Homo sapiens: one gene and its partner. The protein of the gene in region 1 purifies or fractionates together with the protein of each later gene. This does not show direct contact. Each region holds a gene or a part of one and is shown on either strand. Other genes may lie near its edges.

The links.
Region 2: the proteins of NAT9 (region 1) and PALS2 purify together in Homo sapiens (affinity purification with mass spectrometry; 2 studies listed by BioGRID and IntAct, with this or other methods). This does not show direct contact.

The regions. Positions count from the first base shown.
Region 1 is NC_000017.11:74,773,098-74,781,004, forward strand, and holds the start of NAT9 (alpha/beta-tubulin-N-acetyltransferase 9), read right to left. Parts: upstream 3,249-7,907; 5' UTR 3,170-3,248; intron 2,756-3,169; exon of another isoform or gene 2,617-2,755; coding exon of another isoform or gene 2,602-2,616; coding exon 2,525-2,601; exon of another isoform or gene 2,507-2,524; coding exon of another isoform or gene 2,502-2,506; intron 1,307-2,501; exon of another isoform or gene 769-1,306; intron 592-768; coding exon 479-591; intron 1-478. Other genes in the region: SLC38A12 (transmembrane protein 104), read left to right, coding at 4,234-4,278. UniProt on the Homo sapiens protein: N-acetyltransferase that mediates the acetylation of the N-terminal residues of alpha- and beta-tubulin.
Region 2 is NC_000007.14:24,646,232-24,653,922, reverse strand, and holds part of PALS2 (protein PALS2), read right to left. Parts: intron 4,312-7,691; coding exon 4,159-4,311; intron 3,439-4,158; coding exon 3,211-3,438; intron 1-3,210.

The DNA of each region.
Region 1 (7,907 bases):
GTACTCCTACCCAAGCCAGAGCACTGCAGAACACCAGCATCTCTGAGTCTGCCAGGAGAAGAGGGGGTCCCAGAGCTTCCTTCAGCTCATTACAAAATTCCAAATCTGCCTCATACAGAAAAAGCCTCTCCAACCAGCAACCAAATTCTCAGAGAGCAGGGAACACAGAGGAGGGCAGTCACCACACTAGGCTGTGGTGAGGGACATGAGGGGCAGGGCCTCAATTTACAGCCAGAGCCCCAAATGCTCTACTTTCTCCAAATCCTTCCAAGCCCGATGCAGTGGGTGGGGAAGAGGACAGAAGGGTCAGCCACAGGGACTGGCTTCAGGGCCATGAGAATACAGGAGTTCCAGCACCTTCCAGGCTTTTCACAAAGCTTCTATGGCCGGGGCTGGGAAAGGGAAGGAACCTGGAGACTGACTGTGGAGTCAGCCCTCCCAGTACCAGGGCTAGGGGAAGTGGGGGGGCACTCCTCACTGTCTGCATCTTCCTGCCAGCTGCACTGCATGGCATACTCCTGCTCCAGGGTCAGCGGCTCCGAGGCTGTCAAACGCTGCAGCTCCTCTGATTTCATCCACTCGTGGTACCTGCTGGGACAGAGGGGTGGCTTTAGACATGGAGGACTCATTCAGAGGCATACGTCTGACACCTTATGAGGGTCCAGAACCAGACAGGGCTAACATAGGGCTCAAAGAAGACCCAAAGGGTTATGATTGCTCCTAAGGCAGGGGCCACAGACACAAGACCCAGAAGCAAGCTAGTCTTACACAAGAACAGCAGGACGAGTCAGTTCTATCTGTCCAATTTCCTATCCTGTCTCGGGTCAGTGCGGAGGAGCAGTCTGAAACCAAACATTCTTCAAATTCCAGAAGGGGATGTATATGGCAAGCCAACCTCAACAAAGGCGGCTGGACAGATCCCACGAAGTTAGGGCACCAGGAACCCTCAAACGGAAAACTACAAGTAGAGAATACCCATCTACAGCACCACTATCCCAATCTACCAGACATGTGCCAACTGCCCCCACAGGAATCCCATCATGACTCAGTCCTGGCCTTTTGAATGGTAGATATCACAACTCATCAGCTCAGAGTTCAAGGACAAGCTAACATTAAGTCTCCAAGAACTGAACATACTCACTGGCACCAGGGAAACATCACTAATTTACAATTAGGTGAGAAGACAATTTCTTTTTCTTCCACGTTTAGTTTACATAAAGCAATTCCTTGCTGAAAGGCCAAAAAGCTGAGAGAATGAAAGGGAAGAGGATGGGCAGCTCCTCCCAAGGAAGTCACAGTCCCCAGGTTCTGCTATTTTTTTTTTTTTTTTTTTTGAGACAGAGTTTTACTCTTGTTGCCCAGGCTGGAATTACAGGCATGTGCCACCATGCCCAGCTATTTTTTTTGTATTTTTATTAGAGACGGGGTTTCTCCACGTTGATCAGGCTGGTCTCTTTTTTTTTTTTTTTTTGAGACGGAGTCTCGATCTGTCACCCAGGCTGGAGTGCAGTGGCGCGATCTCGGCTCACTGTAAGCTCCGCCTCCCGGGTTCACACATTCTCCTGCCTCAGCCTCCCGAGTAGCTGGGACTACAGGCGCCCGCCACCACATCCGGCTAATTTTTTTGTATTTTTAGTAGAGACGGGGTTTCACCATGTTAGCCAGGATGGTCTCGCTCTCCTGAGCTTGTGATCCGCCTGCCTCGGTCTCCCAAAGTGCTGGGATTACAGGCGTGAGCCACTGCGCCCAGCCTTTATTTTATTTTATTTTATTTTTGAGACAAAGTCTCACTCTGTTGCCCAGGCTGGAGTACAGTGGTGTGATCTCGGCTCACCACAACCTCCACCTCCCTGGTTCAAGTGATTCTCCTGCCTCAGCCTCCCAAGTAGCTGGAATTACAGGTGCCGGGCAACAAGCCCAGCTAATTTTTTGTGTTTTTAGTAGAGATGGCGTTTTATCATGTTGGCCAGGCTGGTCTTGAACTACTGACCTCATGATCCACCCGCCTCAGCCTCCCAAAGTGCTGGGATTACAGGCGTGAGCCACCGCACCCGGCCGTTTTTTTGTTTTTGTTTGTTTTTGTTTTTTTGTTTTTTTTGTTTTTTTTTGAGACAGGTTCTTGCTCTGTCACCCAGGCTGGAGTACAGTGGTACAATCACAGCTCACAGCAGTCTTCATCTCCTGGGCTCAGGCAATCCTCCCACCTCAGCCTCCCTAGTAGCTGGGACTGCAGCTGTGCACCACCATGCCTGGCTAATTTTTGTATTTTTTTGTAGAGACAAGGTCTCGCTACGTTACCCAAGCTGGTCTCGAACTGCTGGGCTCAAGCAATCCTCCTGCCACAGCCTCCCAAAGTCCTGGAATTACAGGCGTGAGCCACGGCACCCAGCCTTTTTTCCCCCCTCATATATAATTATTTCTCACAACCAATGTTTCTTCTTAGGGGAAATAGCCCTGAGACTGGGGCTGTACCTTACACAGCTCTGGGTGCTGATACGCACCCCATGTCAAGCGGGAAAGATACCTGGGCACATGCTCCGAGGTGTAGGGTACAAGGACCACCTTCTTCCCCAGCAGCAAGGTGTTCTGATTCAACCTCATGGTAGCAGCCTGCATGCAGATGGGGAGAGCAAAGACTTCAGGACCCTGAATTTCCTCCAACTTTGGGTAGGCGCTCCAGCTTTCCTGCTGGGGCTAAGTTGACTTCCGTCATTAGTTCCGTCTAGACACTTCAAAGAATACAGACTCCAAAATTCTTGCAAGAAAGAGAACCAGGCTGGTTAAGGATAATTAAACAATCCTTGACTCCCACTCCAAGAGGCCAAGCCTGGGCTCCGTTTCTGCCGGTTCCTTCCGTCCACTCCCCAGAACTTCGATTCCTCAAACCCAAGCACCAAGTACCAAGTACCAAAGTATCCCCAGAGCTCCCATTACTTGCCCCAGTCCAGGGATTCCAACCCAGAATCAACTTTCAGCCCTGCCTTAAACCTACTTCCAACCTCTTACCCCGGCGACCACCCCACGGGGCTCTAGCCACTCCCTCCCCGCCCCCGACCACTTCAGGGCAAGGCGGGCTTAGTCTTAGGCCCTCCCCTTTGAGTGGCGTTCTAGACCACTCTCTTCGACCCTCCAACCACGCGGACCCGGGTACTGCCAAGCTCACACCCACCTACCACCGACGAAATCGTCCCCCGCAGAAAGGGTGATCTACCTCCTCCAACCAGCCACGTTCCCAGGCCCGGCCGGCTACCGCCCCTTCCGCATGCGCGTGAGAACGCGCCCCGCCCACTTCCGCCATGCTGACGGCAGCCGCCAGGCCCCAATCCCGGTCCCGCCCCCGCGAGGCGCCCAATCAGCGCGCGCGAAAAAGGTGGGCTGTGGGGCCGGCGCATGCGCGCTGCGGAAGCTGGTGCTGGACAGCTGGCGCCGGCAGCAGCGGACCGGCGGGAGACGGCGGCTTGGGAGCTGGCTGTGCTGCAGGTGTTGGGTCGGGTCGGGTCGGGACGGGCGGGAGAGGACGAGACGGGTCGGGATAGGTTGGGGCGGGGCGGGGCGGCACTAGACTCGGGACTCCTCCAGGAGGGAGAGAGAGGGAGAGGCTGGGAGTGGGGTTCTTGAGAAAAGAGGGAGCTTTGAGGGTGGGGAACCCTAAGAGAGTAGGTGGGGCCAGGGAGTGGAGGCCCCATTAAAAAAAGGAGGCCTTAGTGCCAAGAGTGGAGTTGGAAGGGCAATGTAGGAAAGCCCCCAGCTCCCTGCCCTAGGCAGAGGCGGCAGACAGTTCCTTGGGCTCCCATGTGTGGTAGTGAGCTCCTGGTTCCTGGAACTAAACGAGGATAACCACCCCAGAGCGTGGAAAGGGGGCTCTTGTGGTGGGTGAGACTTAGTGGTTTTAGAGGCCCCTTAAATCACTTGCACCCCGAGCAGCATTGAAAACATCCGTGCTGGGCACAGAGCAGTGCCCTGCACAGCAAGGGAAATGTTAGAAGAAACCGTCCAGATTTCTGTCATCCAGGGTGACCCCTCCCTCGGGGGTGAGTCTTGTGACAGATACTGAGGCCCTAAGTGTCTGTGATAAAAGAACCAGAGGTGGCAGGGGAAGTCTGCAAGCCTCCTCCCACCCCTGTCTCAGTCCATCAGATAGGTGAAGCCTGCTCTTTTGTTTTAAGGAGCTGCGGCAGCCGCCGTCCTTGCACCTAAGGAACCTCTGCTGCCAGCCCTTCCTCACTTTTGGAAATGGCGGGTGAAATTACAGAGACCGGGGAACTCTACTCTTCCTACGTGAGTGTGACTTATAGAACCTTTTGCTCACTTAAGTGTTCCTGGCTTCTAGAAAAGCACATTGCTTGCTGGAGATGGGACTAGTGAGTGCTGCTGCTTGAGCAGACCATAGTGGAAGCAGGATGGGGGAGTTCCATGGGGCAGCGACTACAGTGCTGCTGTGGTGGCTCAGAATGTAAGTCAGATTTATTCTCTTTTTAAGGTGTTTGTCAGAGTGGTCAAGCCAAACAAAATCGCCATGCTGTTTATAATGTTAATCCCGGGCTGGGCACGGTGGCTCACGCCTGTAATCCCAGCACTTTGGGAGGCTGAAGCGGGCAGATCACCTGAGGTCAGGAGTTCAAGACCAGCCTGGCCAACATGGTAAAACCCTGTCTCTACTAAAAATACAAAATTAGCCGGGCATGGTGGCACTGTAATCCCAGCTACTCGGGAGGCTGAGGCAGGAGAATCGCTTGAACCCGGGAGGCGGACGTTGCAGTGAGCTGAGATCGAGCCGTTGCACTCCAGCCTGGGCAAAAAGAGCGAAACTCTGTCTCAAAAATAAAGAAATAATGTTCATCTCCAGGCTACCACACTTGCCTGCAGTGCTGCCCTTCAGATGAACAGTGATTGACAGCTGTTGACTCTGGGTTTTGCTCATCTCAGCAGTTGGAAACCGCTTTGGTCTTTACTGAATTTTAAATTGCACAACTTTTATAGTCTTGGATGGCGTAAGAAGCAGCGAAAGCATACAGAGACTTCTAATTACAGTTTGGTGGACTCTGCAATTAGAACAATTAGAATGATTGATTCTCACTGTCTTAGGTCTGTGTTACCTCTGGCTGCCCCCAACACACACGCAGTTTATCTTCTCTATGTAACGTATGATTGGTCATAGTTGTTACATCACAGGGCCCTCTTGCCTGGATAAGTAGCCAGAGGGTTGGAATAATCAGATGGTTGACTCAGGTTGCTACCAACCCTCCCAGGCAAAAGCAGCACTGCCCTAAGTAGCAAGAGTTTTCTAGAACTTGACCTGCCTTCAACAGCTGCCCTGCCTTGTACATAGCTTCCTAGCCTGGGGATCTCTGGTCTGTTTCTGCTAGCTTCACAGACTAGCATTGTGGTGTGATGGACAAGGAAGTGTCTCCAAGACATTTCCTTCACAGCTGGAAGAAAGCCTTCCTGATTCCAGAGTCTTCCTATTGGGCCTGTGCCATTCATGTGTGGCAATAAAGGAGCCTTCTTCACCCATCACCTGTGTAATTTCTCAGGGGAAGTCTTTTTTTTTTTTTTTTTTTTTTTTTTGAGACAGAGTTCCACTCTTGTTGCCCAGGCTGGAGTGCAATGGTGCAATCTCGGCTCACTGCAACCTCTGCCTCCCAGGTTCAACCTCTGCCTCCCAGGTTCAAGCAATTCTCCTGCCCCACCCTCCCAAGTAGCTGGGACTACAGGCATGCACCACCCTGCCCAGCTAATTTTTTGTATTTAGTAGAGACAGGGTTTCACCATGTTGGTCATGCTGGTCTTGAACTCCTGACCTCAGGTGATCCACCCGCCTCAGCCTCCCAAAGTGCTGGGATTACAGCCGTGAGCCACTGCACCCAGCCTCTCAGGTGAAGTCTTTCATGAACCCTGGAATGGAATAAATAGTGTCCCTCTCATTTGTGGAATTATGTAACAGCTCCTAGCCTCCTGCTGTCAGTGATGAAATCTCTATGCTGTCTATTAATGTAAAAGTCACCACGGCTCCTGCTTTTTCTTACAACATCTGTAAATTTAGAGATAAGGAGATGAGTCATCCCTGTAACTAAGTTTTGTAAGGAAAACACTTGGATATGTCCCCATTTCTTGTATCTCCGGTTGTTTAAGGGGTCCTCTCACATGTCAGCATGTGCCCACAGGAAATGAGGCAGTTAGGCCTGCAAGCTTCAGTGCGCTCTGCCCGTTTTTGTTCTCCATCTCCTCTGTGTTTTATTTCGTTCAGGGTCTTTGTTGCCCAGAGGGCCAGCTCTGGGCATTGGCCATAAACAAGTGCTTGTGTTGTTTTATCCTACTGGTGAAGAGAGATGTAGGGAGGAGATGGGGTGGGATGGGGAGGGGATGATGTGACATCAAACAGGAGGTGTAGTGGTCAGTGTTCTGAGGGGAGAAGACACCTTCTTCCTAAGGGTTCCTTAACTCCCCCGTCCTGGAACAATTCTTGGTCCTCTGTAAGACCAGAAGAGTTGGTTGTCACTGAACCCAGATAAGCTGTGGAACTAACTCACTGCTGATGCTGGCTGCTCTGAGTTCCCCTGCAGGCCCCAGCTCAAGACAACGTGGGCAGAGCTCTGCCCTGGCTGCCTTGGGAAACCAAGACACGGGGCAGGTCATTCATACGTGTGCTTCAGCCCACGCGCATTTACAAGACAAAGCCTCTCCTTAGCTCTCTATTGCCCCATTCATTTTGAGTTCTTTTCCCCTTCAGGAGTTCCAAGGATGTTCGCTTTAGCTTGAATTATTCTGCCTAAAATATTTGTAACAAGCAGACGAACCTCCTAGGTGGCTCAGATGTCACACCCTCTCAAGGGTAGTGCTGAACACGGGAACGTGGTTCAGAGAGGTACATGTCCCCTTAAGGGATCTCAGGATAGGCATGTCTGTTTCCCCATTTATGAGGACCGAGAGTGACACAGAACTGAAGTGGTTGTTGTGTGATCAAAATACAGGATGCTGTAGGTCACGCCCGACAGAAGGGTCGGCCGCTGAGGGTGCCTCTGCCTGCTGGTTCCTGCTGAAGATTGTTGCGGTTGCTTTCGAAGGAGAGAGGCTTGTTTCACACCCTGAAATCCTAGTCATTGCTTCCGCATCTTTGCTGCCTTCTGTTTCCTTTGACAATTGTCAGAGGGGAAGCTGTTGAAAGATACTGGTGACATCTGCCCCATGCAGGTCATGAGTGAGGCTGCTGGGTGGAGACGAGGCATGTGGGATGCTGCACTGAGCTCTCTAGGGCATAGGAGAGCAGGCCAGCCGTCCCAGGGAGCAGTGCCTGTGCCTCCTCCAGTGCAGCCACAGAGGAAGAGGTGAGAATTGGAGATAACTCAGTTTAGAATGCATGCATTGGTCTTCATTATCAAGACTGCAGTAGAGCCTATTCCTCAGCTTTCTGCCACTGCTTCCCAGGAGTCTGGCCCACAGAACTGTCCCACGACCAGCAGAAGAGAACGTCTCCTTTCTCTTCCTTCCCCACAACCCCTCCTGACCCAACCTGTGGCTCAGCCCAGATTTGCTTCCTGCCTCTATGTCTGTTCATTGTGATTGGCCATCACTGATTACCTTTACAGAAGGTGAAGAGGACTGAATGCTCGCCAGGAGTGCCACAGTCCTGAGAAGGCAGAGAAGTCCTACGTTACCCTGCAGGATTCCCTGAGCCCCCACTAAACACACAGGGCTTGCTTTGGAACTGAAAAAATTGCAACAAAGCAAGACAACTGCAATTACCCATTTCTGCTCCCAACTGCCAATAGTTTCTCTCTTCATTCATTTCTTTGTAAAGTTCTTAAAGGTTCCTAAGTTTCTTTTGGGAGCATGCTTATTTCATTATACCTCTCTCTACAGCAGTGGTTGTCAACTAGCGGTGATCCTGCCCCCCAGAGGACAGTAGG
Region 2 (7,691 bases), on another chromosome or scaffold:
GCTTCTGCCAGTTTCCTTAAGCTTGTTGACACCAAGCTGGTTTAAGACACTGGGTGGCATTTCTGTTAGCTGCTTTGTCTCAGCATGTCTGGTAATGGTCAAAGTGTTCGCTGCTAGAGATGTCTGAACACTGGGATTGTTAATGAAGATCACCATTCCTTGGTTTGCAGACATACCTCTTTAGTATCAGAGATATTGCCTATTTCTACTTTCTTTCAGGAAAACTGAAGATTTTTTTTATCATCTGTTTTAACAGATAATGTTTGCTGTATCATCTGAGGGCAGTTCCTTTTTACCAGTGCACAATTGTGCTTGAAATCTGGCAAGTTTTTCATGGTTTGTGAGGGCTTTTTCATTTTATAATGAAAACGAAAGTGGAATTTCGTGAGTGGAAATTAAACTTCGTGGGGTATTGGGGTTGGCACTAGAGGTCTCAGGCAGACCAGCTGCAAGGCCAGTTTCTGACTTTAAAGGGAAAGCTTCTAACATTAGTTAATTCAGAATAATGTTTGTTCTATTTTTTTTTTTTGTAATAAAATTAAGGCTTTTCCCTTCTGTTCCTAATTTACTAATCATTTTTTAAAAATCATTGAATTTTATCAAATTCTCCATTGAGGTTATTCTCTTTTCATCTGGTAATGTGCTTAGTTACATACATATGGATTTTCTAATATGAAACTCTCCTAGCATACCTGGGATAATAAATCTAACTTGGATATGTTGTATCATCTTTGTTATATACACAATCAAATCTGATTTGCTAATATTTTGTTGAGAATTTTTAATGTATATCCTTGAATGAAACAGTCCTGTAATATATTTTCTTATATTGTTTCTAGTTGTCCAGGTCATGTTGGTTCCAAAGAATAAGAGAGAATTCCTATCAGTTGGCCTTAATAAACAAATGGAATTACGAATAGCCCCCGGAAATCTAAGCTATAAGAAAGTTGAAGAACTTCAGAATTGGCTACTTCTAACTCACTCTGGCCCTCAAAATTTAAAACATAGATACTTATGTCCCATAGCAGATTCTGGACTTTTACCAAGCACCTGAAACGATTCTGATAAAGATCATCTACTGACTATGCTTTTGAAAAACATTACCGTGGTAGGGAAGAGTTCTTGGCTTTCATTTGCTCTTGCAGCAATCCAGAGCTGAGACTAGCTCCACAGCACTACATGGTGGAGATTTTAGTGAAAGAGTTGAAGACGCAAAATGCCCTTGCTTCCCTATAGCATCTCAGTAGGATGCCCATGGTTTGCAGATGCCCTGGTTTATGCCTATTATTCCAGCATATGAGTAATGTTCCCCTTTTCATTTAAAAAAAAAAAAGTCTCAATTTGGATGTTCTTTTGGAAGCCTTCATGTTATAGTTTCTTTACTTCTTTATGGGAGGACACGCCTCAGGCTACCTCGGACTTATAAGACTCCTCCTCTCCTACTTGAATTCATTTCCCCAGCTCTAAATGCTAAGTGAAAAGCAGAGTTTGAGAGGGTATGGAATGTGGAAAACTTATGTTTAAACAAGGCTAAATGTCCTTGCATTTCATGGTATTCAGTTAGTTCACCAGATGCAAAATCTATGTAGGAATTTGGGCCAAAGCCCTAGTTATTAATATTATAAAATTTTATTTTGCCTGTAAAAGTCTCTTATAGCCATGGTGAGCTAGAAGAATTCTGGAGTTTAGACCACAGAAGGAAAATAAGATCTTCCTACTACAACTAACACATAATAATAAATAAAATACGTAAATCCTAGATTTTACTCTTCCAGCGTACGCAGGTCCAAGATAAGGCCTCAGGCTGTCACAAATTGAAAGTTGCCAACTGAGGAATAAAGGTAGCCTGAGAGGTACTAGTGATATGAAATGTCTAAGTACTAATATCATTTATTTTTCACAATTCTTTTCCTTGAGGACCACAAAACTACCTTCATTTCAACCAAAGTTAATTACAAGCCTATCTATTTTCATAAGTTCAATTTACATGCTAATATTAATGACTAAATAATCTATCCTTACCTTTGAAAGAACAGTTTAAAATAGACATTCAATGAAATGTTATTTCAAATAACTGTATGGAAATGTAAGAACTAGACTTTTAAACTCTCATTTTAACAATATGAAATAAGATACACTGGCAGTATCTTATGTAAGAAAACTTATAATTTCATTCATACATCAAACAATAAATTTCTGGAATAAACCTAAGCATTAGAGGCATCTACTTCTACATTACTTAGGCTTGAAAACCCTCTCTTTGGTTCCAACACTCCTATCATAATTTTCAATTCTTCCTCCGCAATTTCTTTTTCTTTCTTTACGGTTCCATTTCACCACTACTGCGTCATCACCACAGCAAGTGCAGCCACTTCTTGAGCACTCATTATGTGCCAGGTGTTGCTGTGAGAGCATTACATGAATTAACTCGTTTAATCCTCATAACAATCTTTTGAGAAAACAAATTTTATCCCTAACTATATAGATGAGAAAAATGAAGCACAGAGAAGGTAAGCTGATAACTGGCAGCACTGGTATTTGAACCTAAGTGGTCATCTTAACCATTCATTAGAGCTGTTGTTCACAAATCACCTCACACCTTCAAAAATCTGCCACCTGGTTACATAATCTCATCTCTCTTCTTTTTGAATTCACTTAACATACCGAGTCTAGACAATCTCTATAACTAAAACATTTTCCCGTTCAATTACCTAGTTTACCTAAAATTAGTTTTAAAATACAGATCAAATGTGTGCAAACCAGGGGTCCAAGATTTTCTTTATACCCATCCTCTTTTCTGGCCTCATCAGTCATTTCACCCATGACACAAACACTAAGCTGGAGGTGATCTGGACTGCATTTTTATCCTCTCCCAGGGCCTAATACAATGCCTGAACATAACAGCTGTCAGAAATGTTTACTAGATTAGTAATTCAAAGACTTTATGGTTCTTCTGATACCTAGCTGTAGGTTACTATTATGCCAGGGTTCCTGGTGTTAATGAAGAAATCTACTATTTCCTTTACAATAGTAAAATAGCATTGTTTAAAAATTCAAAAATTCACCCATGACAAAATAAGCCATTTCAGAACACTCAAATCAATTTTTTCTCTTTTCTTTAGCAAAATAGTAGCAACTGATAGTTATTTCCAACACTGTGATTAAAAACATGAAAGTATTTTTAATACTACCAAAAATTTTATTACTAACCTGTTGAGGAGTAATGGTATCTCTATAACTTGGTAAGATTTTTAGGGTGACACTTCCACTAATATTTTTCAGTAATTCTTGTAATTCCTTTGGATTATTTCCAACCTCATGGCCATTGACTTCTTTAATTATATCTCCCACATGAAGTAGACCTTGTCGATCTATCATTCCCCCATGGAGGATTCGGGCAATTACCAGATCATTATTTTCAACCCTAAATGTCACACCCTATGAAAAATAAGAAACAGATTTCTCATTAATTATTAGGGAGAAATGCTTAAATATTCATGAGCATATGTAAGAAAATAATTCTAAAACTAGGTAAAATGAATCATTCTTACTTTTCCCATGTTCTCTCCTGTCTCAATATTTCACTCCCATTAAACTGTGTACTAGTATAGTTTATTACACTAGTGGATAGGATGTATCTTACAGGCTAAATGGAAACTCGAGAGAGCAGGAAAAGGTATTTGTGCATTCTGATGGACTTATTCCTGGCTTTTCCTTTTTTGCACTCACTGTTCTTATAGTCAGGATCCAGAAGTAATAATTTTACCAAGGAATAGTAAACTTCACTACTTAGAGAGTCCTAGTATGGCTTCAATTTTTAATAACAACTTCTTTTTATATTTTGATACTGTCAGTATTTCTTCAAAGGGTAGTTCATGTCTTCAAAGGGTAGGAAGAAACATAATAGTCATCTTCTGAAATTTTTTGCTACCCCTTGCCATATTTCTACTTCTAGCTCAGTTTAACTTTTCATTTTAGTTAAATTTTGCAGGCTAAACCAAGTTGAGAAAGCATCAGCTGTGTCTTTATACACAGGCCAAACAAGAATACAGTTTTCATAACATTATGAAAAGGAAAAAAAATGAAACAGAGTAGTGACTGAACCACAAATTATGTCATATTTCAGATTTAATAGGGTACTGATTTATCTGTACTCACCAGTGGTTCCCCAGCTCTTTTGTGAATACCAAGAATACGAATGGCATCTACTGGTAATAACTGATTATTGATAGAAGAATTATTCATTTCTGGGCTTGATGGAGGTGAATCATAACACTTTGATGCCACAATATCATGGGCCTCCAACAGTGACTATAAGGAGTCAAAATAGCCTGTGGTTATTTATGATATGTGGATGAAATTTGTTACTAAAAGTACTTTGTTATTTCATTATTCCAATGGAGTACTAAAAATTTCCAAGGCACATGGTATTAAATTCCCAAATATCAGGTTGATCAAATAAATATATAATTTTTAAGAGATATAAAAATATATAGTTTTATTATCATCAAACAATATTATATTCCTTCTTTGAGATATGAAGAGATATTAGTGATGCTTTTTAAAAACTGGCAAGTTCACTGGAAACTGAACCTAGGTTTCCAGTCTGGTGCAATGAAGGTACTGGGTTTTATTGCCACCACTGTCATCATATCATTCAATATTTACCATCAATCCTATTTACTAAAATACCATAAAAATTCAAATTCAAATGACATTTTTACCTAACATTGCTATGTTAGTAATATGATATACTTTTTATATGTAGAAAACGTCTGTTAAAAGATGTCCAACAGAAAATGGATAAATATTAGCATCTTATATCAGTGACAAAAAATTTTATATTACCAATAAAGGTTTTAGTTTATAAAAGGAACATTTTTTGAGCAAAAAAACAAGTCAGTAATAGTCCCGAATATAACGTATTTTTTTTACCTCCTATACTTACTATGTATGTGCTACCAGCATGGGTGGTTTTGATCTAGCTTTCTAGGAATTGCTTTTTTTTTTTCTTTTTTGAGACAGAGTCTCACTCTGTCACCTAGGCTGGAGTGCAGTGGTGTGATCTCGGCTCACTGCAACCCCCACTTCCTGGGTTCAAGTGATTCTCCTGCCTCAGCCTCCCAAGTAGCTGGGACTACAGGCGCATGCCACCATGCCCAGCTAATTTTTTGTATTTTTAGTAGAGACGGGGTTTCACCGTGTTAGCTAGGATGGTCTCGATCTCCTGACCTCATGATCCGCCCACCTCGGCCTCCCAAGGAATTTCTTAATTAATACTAAAATGTTAAATTTTTTTTCATTTCTTATCCTAAAAGAATAATTTTTAGGGCAGGCGCGGTGGCTCATGCCTGTAATACCAGCAGTTTGGGAGGCCGAGGCAGGTGGATCATGTGAGGTCAGGAGTTCAAGACTAGCCTGGCCAACATGGCAACACTCTGTCTCTACTAAAAACACAAAAAATTAGCTGGGCGTGGTGGTGTGTGCCTGTAATCCCAGCTACTCGGGAGGCTGAGGCAGGAGAACTGCTTGAACCCGGGAGGCAGAGGTTGCAGTGAGCCGAGATTGCACCATTGTACTCCAGCCTGGGCAACAAGAGTGAAACTCTGTCTCAAAAAAAAAAAAAAAAAAAAGAATAATTTTTACTGCAACTGTGCATATTCAACATAAAGATAAGTTAACATTCTTGAGGGGCTGGATAGAATTCAAGTTCAAAAACAATAAATCAAAATAGAAAGAAGCAAATATTAACAGGTTCGGGAAAAAAGCAATCAGGATAATTGGTAATTTCTGGTCATTTCATAAAACAATTTGTGAAACACTGGAGAAAAAAATTCAATAAAACAACTCATAAATCCATATGTAAGGATTCTTCCTATAAATGCTGGAAGTTGCTAACCTGCGCTGCTTAGTTTTCCACCCTATATCCTCCTTTGGCAGTTTCATTTACTCCTGTGACTTGAGCCACTACTTATGCATTGACAACTCTTAAATTTCTATCTCTAGTTCAGAAATCTCATGTGCTTCAGATTTTTATAGTAAAAATTTGCCCACAACTCGTCAAAGTCACGGCAATTTGAAAATCAAAAGTAGGGATTGTAAAAGATTAAAACACTGAATAAAAAATCCATAGATCCACAATGCTATTTAAAAAAAGACTGAAAAAACTCATTTGTTACCACTTGAAACTGCAATTTTAAACAGCTCTTCACTTTGAAACTTAGTAAAAGGAAGGATCAAGTACATTCCTGCCTCTTCAGTAGAAATGCACTAAGCAGCCCAGTTGATGAGAAGCTCTACATTATGGAAGAATACTAGCTAATAATGTAGAACAGAAAAACGTCATTTTGCAACCTCTAATGAAAATTCTGATTTACAACCCAAAAGCTAGAATAAGATGAGAAATAACAAAAATTAGAGCTGAGCTGAAGAAAACTGAGACACAAAAAACCTTCCAAAAGATCAATGAGGCTGGGCATGATATGATGGCTCACGCCTGTAATCCCAGCACTTTGGGAGGCCGAGGTGGGCAGATCACCTGAGGTCAGGAGTTCAAGACCAGCCTGGCCAACATAGTGAAACACTGTCTCTACTAAAAATACAAAAATTAGCTGGGTGTCACGGCACGTGACTGCCTAGTCCCAGCTACTTGGGAGGCTGAGGCAGGAGAATTGCTTGAACCTGGGAGGTGGAGGCTGCAGAGAACCGAGATCGTGCCACTGCACTCCAGCCTGGACAACACAGTGACTCCATCTCAAAAAAAAAAAAAAATTAATTAAATTAAATTAAAACAACAACAACAACAACAAAAAATCAGAATCCAGGAGTTGGGTTTTTGAAAAAATTAATAGACAAGCCACTAGCTAGACTAATAAAGAAGAAAAGAGAGGAGAGCCAAATAAACACAATTAGAAATGATGAAGGGAATGTTACTACTGAACCCACAGAAATAAAAACAACCATGAGAAACTACTATGAACACTTCCATGCACACAAACCAGAAAACCTAGAAGAGAGATAAATTCCTAGACATATACAACCTCCGAAGACTGAGCCAGGAATAAATTGATTCCCTGCATAGACCAATAACAACCTCCGAAATTGAATCAGTAATAAATAGTTTATCAACCAAAAAAAGCCTGGGACCTGATGGATTCACAGCTGAATGCTATCAGATGTACAAATAAGAGATGGTACCATTCCTACAGAAAAGCTATTCCAAAAAACTGAGGAGGAACTCCTCCCCAACTAATTCTATGAGGGCAGCCTCATCTTTATATCAAAACCTGGCAGAAACACAACAGAAAAAGAAAACTTTAGGCCAATATCCTTGACAAACATTAATGTCAAAATCCTCAACAAAATACTTGCAAACCAAATCAATCGGCACATCAAAAAGCTAATCCACCATGATCAAGTAGGCTTCATCCCCAGAATGCAAGGTCTGTTCAACATTTGCAAATCAATAAATGTGATTCATCACATAAACAGAACTAAAGACAAAAACTACATAATTACCTCAATAGAGCAGAAAAGGCTTCCAATAAAATTCAACAACCCTTCATGTTAAAAATTATCAATTAACTAGGTATTAAAGGAACATACCTCAAAATAATAAGAGCCATCTATGACAAACCCACAGCCAACATTATACTGAATGGGCAAAAGCTGGAAGCACTCCCCTTGAAAAC